2 separate regions of the Homo sapiens genome follow, and region 2 is linked to region 1. A link means that fine-mapping ties the variant in region 1 to the expression of a gene that starts in the linked region. Tissue or cell type: whole blood. Region 1 holds a variant in brackets; the other region holds the start of a gene. Each region is shown on its reference strand, or each on the opposite one.

Evidence for each region.
Region 2: NFIX starts here. The variant in region 1 is fine-mapped to the expression of NFIX in whole blood (TOPMed, PIP above 0.99).

What each region holds. Positions count from the first base shown.
Region 1 is chr7:33,040,399-33,043,306 of GRCh38, reverse strand. The region is part of intron 1 of NT5C3A (5'-nucleotidase, cytosolic IIIA); the gene reads left to right. Among named protein-coding and RNA genes, the nearest start is that of NT5C3A, 21 kb to the left of the region's middle. RefSeq lists a silencer at 2,280-2,379. The variant T/C (reference allele first, on the strand shown) is at 1,405.
Region 2 is chr19:12,994,049-12,996,956 of GRCh38, reverse strand. It overlaps NFIX (nuclear factor I X), which reads right to left and starts at 1,482. Exons shown (of 11, transcript NM_001365902.3): 1 at 1,093-1,482. The coding sequence starts at 1,119. RefSeq lists an enhancer at 613-1,201 and a silencer at 1,376-1,535.

The sequences.
Region 1 (2,908 bases):
AACTTTCCTATACTTGTATAAAGATTTTTCCTTCTCAAATTGGACTCTTGCTGTAGATATTATAACTTTTTTCAATCAGTAGTAGACCATATGTCTGTAAATACTCAGCTCATGGAGCAGTACTGTGCAGTGATCTGAAACATGGATTCTGAAGTTAGAGAGAACTGAGTTAGAATCCATTTCTGCCGCTTATCAAGTATAAGGCTTAATTTGCCCACCAGTAAATTGAAAATAATACTAGCACATACCTTCTAGGGTTGTTTATAAGTATTATATGAGACAAGGAATGTCAAGTGCTTAGAGGCATCTGGCACATAGTAAACACAATACATTTTAGCTATTCATAATAATCATTTTTAAGAGCAGTATAATTTTATATTTTCTGTATGTATCACAGCTTATTCACCTCTTCTGTATTAGTGAACATTTGAATATTGGCCATTTAGGTTGTTTCAAGTTTCCCAGAATTATAAAACAAATTTGCAGTATACGTCCTGGCAGCTAAAGTTTTGTGTACTGCCTAATTTCTTTAGGAAAAATTTCTAGACACAAAATTGATGTGTCAAAGGGAATGTATATTTCTAATGCTTTTAATAGTATTTCTAAATTGCACTCCAAAAAGATTGTAGAACTATCATTTCAATATTCTTGGTTGTTGAAAGTGATCTGTGAATCATCTTTCAAAGTGATGTATTTTAAATTCTTACCATTGTCAACTCTAATAATATTAAAGTACATTTAAGTCATCATTTTCATACATAATACAGAAATATTTTAGAAATGGAGCCCTTTGTGGCCCTTGAGTCTTCATTACTGATTAGAGATAATAGGCTGTCCTCTTAGAGGAGTGTTTCATTATGAATTTTATTATTTTATTTAAATAAGATAGCAGTGTCAAAGGTTTCACGTTTGGTAGATACAAATTTGGATAGTTTTGTTTTTTGTTTTTTTGGGGTTTTTTTGTTTTTTGTTTTTTTTGAGACAGTTTTGCTCTTGTTGCCTGGGCTGGAGTGCAGTGGCGCAATCTCAGCTCACTGCAACCTCCGCCTCCTGGGTTCAAGTGATTCTCCTACCCTGAGTAGCTGGGATTACAGGTGCCTGCCACCAGGCCCGGCTAATTTTTTGTATTTTTGGTAGAGATGGGGTTTCATCATGTTAGCCAGGTTGGTCTCGAACTCCTGACCTCAGGTGATCCACCCGCCTAGGCTTCCCAAAGTGCAGGGATTACAGGCATGAGCCACCACACCCAGCCTGGATAGTTTTTTAACACCATTTTTAACAGCAATTTAAAATTTTTTTCATGTTGTTTTTAATAGAGAACGATACTTCACAAAATTTGATTACTGAAATATTACTAGACTAGATTTCTCTGAGGACAGTAGAGAGAAAGCCGATAATAAAAAT[T/C]TATTTACATAAGTGTAGTGTAGCCATGTTCCCTAATGATAAAGGTTCCCACAGCCCATGGCATAACTTATCTATCAGGTCCTGACACATGGTATTAGCATATTGCCACCCTACTACTCAGGTTAAAAGCAAGACTAGTTCTCTTTTAAAAAAAAAAATTTTTTTTTCTTCATGACAGTTGGACTGCTCTTATTTTTAACAGGCAGGAACTTTTTCCCCCCATTTTTAAAAACAGAAATTAATTTTTATTTTCAGATTTTATGGCTGGTCTTATTAAAAGTATAAGAAAATATAAAAATTACTTTAAATCCCACTGCCCTTTGATAAAGACTATTAACAGTTTTTTGACCACATTTGCATATATCATGTCTTTTTGTTTATGGACTTTAAGTGAGCTAATCTTTTTTTTAATAGTGGTAAAATATACATAATATAAATCGTACCATTTAAACCATTTTTAAGCATTTCATTTGGTGGCATTAAGTACATCTACACTACCGTGCAACCATAACCACTGTCCACTCCAGAACTCTTTTCATCTTCTAAAACTGAAACTCTATCCATTGAGCAATAATTCCCCATCCTCCTCCTCCAGCCCTGGCAACAGCAACCTAATCTTTTTAACTTTGTATTAAAATAGAATATACAGAAAAGTTCACATATCAGAAGTACACTGACAAACCACTGACAAACCAGGTGGAAAGGAATGTTTTTAAGTGTTAGTGTAGAGGTTCCTCTTTTCTTTCCAGAGCCAGTTGCCAGTTCTAATAGTACAGATTTACCTTCTCTTTAATCGTCACATAACTTCAATTGATAATGTTATGTAGATTGACTTGTGACTAGCTCAGAGCTAGCGAGGCTGTAACCAAGAGCATATATAAAGTACTGTGCAGCAGTGCGTCACAAGGTTTTTGCATAGGGCTTAGTCAAGGCTTTTGGAACCGCCCTCAGTTGCACCTTGTGCTATATTAGTACTTCTCAGACAGGAAGAATTTTCTTTTGCTGGTGTAGCTCGTCCGGTTACCTTCAGGGTAAGTGTGTACGGTTCATGTAAATGAGTTTCTCTTGTCTAACTTTATGTGATTCTTATTTGATTCTATAACTTACTGAAATTTTGGGCATTTTGAAATACAAACTTAGGAAATAAAATAATGTTCCAGTATAATGCAAAACTTCTTTATAATTTGTGAAGAAATGAATGTGCAAAACTTTGAAGAGTCTTAGGTCTCAGAAATTACATTTTATATGTTCTAATTTTAAGAGCTTCTTGTTTCACCTGTAGATGTTGAGAAAAAGCAAAGTACCTTCAGAAGTCTCTTTCCAGGTTGAGGGGAAACACTCTAAGATTCAATTTGGTTGTTCATTCAGTTGGCTATGTGACTCAGTTTTACTGACAGCCACAAGCTTTGTGTTACTAGGATTAGGAACAGTTATTATGGGTAGTAATAAAGATTATCAATTTTTATTTTGTGCATGTGAGCTTTACCCAGGATTTTATAGAATG
Region 2 (2,908 bases), not on the chromosome of region 1:
TGTCAGGGCCACTGTGGGACTCTGGGCAGCTTCTGTGCCCTCTTAGAGCCTCAGGCCACAGCCCAGGGAGAGTTGGGTGGCCCGACAGGCATCCTCGAAGCTTTTGCCGCAGCCGTGCGCCGCGCAGGGAACTTCGCTGCAGGCGGGACGCGCTCTAGCAACGCGCCAAGGTCGGCGCTGTTGTGCCCGAGGCTGACCCGACGGTGTGGCCGCAGCACTGTCGGCTGTGTCCACGGCTGCCTCCCGCCCCTCCCGCCTCCAGGCGACGGGACGGGATTCCCCAGGCCTGCCGGGTCCACTCCGCAGCAGCCCGGGTCGCTGGGGCCAGAAAGTTTGCGCCGAGGAAAGTTTGGGGGTGGGGGGGCAGAGGCTGCGACGTCCGGGGTCGGAGAGGCGCGGCCACCGCTGGCAGCGCGCCCGCCCCCCTCTCCCCTCCCCTGCCCCTCCGAAATTTGGGAGCCCCGCCATTTTCTTAGCCCCGCTCCCATGTGAGGCCTAAACAAAGACTTTGGGGAGACGCCCGGGCCGCTCGGCCCACCCCAGGCACCCCGGCCGCACGCAAGGGCCGCCGCCACGCACGCCGGCCACTGCCACCCTCGGGAACCGCTGCGCCCTCCCCAGGAAGCGTCGCGGGACCCAGTGTCCCCTCTGCGCCCTCGGGACCACCCTCTTGCCACTCTGTCAACCCCGCAAACACTGCCAGCGACCACGCTGCCCGGGTGCGCGCTACAGTAGCCCACAGGTCAGCCGGAGTCCCGCTGCCCATCGCACCCCAGTCGAGCGCGCACACACACACACACACACACACACACACGTACACGCACTCCCGCCTGCGCTCCACGGGCAGCGCCACGACGCAGCTGGCCACCCCCGGAACCCCCAAAAGGAGTCCGCCCGGTGGCCAGGGTCGCACGCGCACGGTGACGCCCGCACGCGTGCCTGGGCTCCCCGCGGCACAGCCTGCACCCCTCGGCGGCCCGCGGGCTCTCGGCCCCCCCTTCCCGGCCGCCGCGCGTCCCCTCCGCCCGCGCCGCCGGCCGGCCTCCCGCGCCCGCTCCCCTCCCCCGGTCGCGCGGGGGCGGCGGCCGGTACCTGGGTGAGGCAGTACGGGGAGTACATAGCTGGGCGCCCGGGCGGGAGCGCGGCGGCCGGCCGCGGCGAGGGGAGGCCCGGCAGGCGGCGGCCGCGCTCGGGCTCGGGCTCCGGCTCGGCTCCTCCGGCCTCCGCCGCGCTGCGCCCGCCCGGCCCGCGGCCCCGCGCTCGGCCCGGCGCCGCTCCGCGCTCGCCGCTCGCAAGCTCGGCCCCGCCGGCTCCGGGGCCGCCGCTGCCGCCGCCGCCGCCGCGCTCGCCGCTGCCTCTCGCGTCCGCCGCCGCCGCCGCTGCCGCCGCGCGTCTACTCCATGCCGCCGCCGCTCGGCCGGTCACCCTCGCCCGCCGCCGCCGCCGCCGCAGCCGCCGCGCTGTGAAAGTGAAAGTTTAGACAAAGTTTGGAAGCGGCGCACTCCGGGGAGAGGGAGCGGGCGGGCGGCGCGGGCGGGAGGAGGGGCGCGGGGAGGGGCGGGCAGGGCGGGGGAGCGGCGGCCGGCGCACACACACAAGCACACACATGCACACACACACACGAACACACGCACACGCGCGCGCGGGGGCGCACACCGACGCGGCCGCCCTGACACGTGCTGGCCCGCGTTCCAGCGCAGACACACGCTGACACGCAGCGGGACTCGGACCCCGCCACACATGTCACGTCCAGAACGCCTGGCCACACGTTCCGCCTTCGAACACAAAGCACACTCGGACACCAGTGCACACAAGGCACAGACACACAACCCCTACACACGGGCACACACACACAGCAGTCTGGGAAAACACCCACGACCCACGCTCTGACATGCACCGTCCCACCATGGTATCCAGGCACACAACAAGGAACCGCGTATAGACATACACCAAAGCAGGCGTCACGTAGACACACACTGATATACACGAAGACACACCAGTGCATGACACATAGAGATGCACACTGATGCACACACACTGACGCATGTTCCTGCAGAACACAGACACATGCAAGATCACACAGCCACACGCTGACACCTTCCAGACACACAATTCCTACACGCAGACACATACACAACACACACACATCGCAGTGCCAGAACACACTGGCAGTTGTGGCAGTACACCCCGATGTACAGAATGACACTGATGATTGAGAGGCCGAGGCCAGTGGATTGCTTGAGCTCAGGAGTTCAAGACCAGCCTGGACAACATGGCAAAACCCCTCTCTACCAAAAATACAAAAATTAGCTGGGTGTGGTGGTGGATGCCTGTGGTCCCAGCTACTTAGGAGGCTGAAGTGGGGGGATCCCTTGAGCCCGGGGAGGTCAAGGGTGCAGTGAGCCATGATAGTGCCATTGCACTCCAACCTGGGTGACAGAGCAAGACCCTGTCTGAAAAAAAATAACTAAATAAATAAGATGACACTAATGAAGGGAAGATACACAATGTCACATAAACACACACCAAACACCTGGAAGTGAATGCAAAGGACCCCAATACAAAGAGATACACAGCGTCACAGATACAAAGCAACACTGGCTGTCACAACACAACACACAGACACACACACACACACACACACTGGGTTGCCCAGATGTACCCACAGGCCTTGGACACACTGACCAACTGATGCCCAGGCGGCTGACAACCCCCCTGGGAGAATCATCTAGCCATGCACACAGGGATCACACACATACACCCATGTCCCTTACGTGCCCCCCCCCCAACACACTTGTAATGTGGCCCTGATCATCGACATAGGCAAATATAGCAGGAGACCCACAGCTCAGCTGTCAGGGACAGAATTGGGCATCAGGGCCTCCGTACATGTACACACACACACACA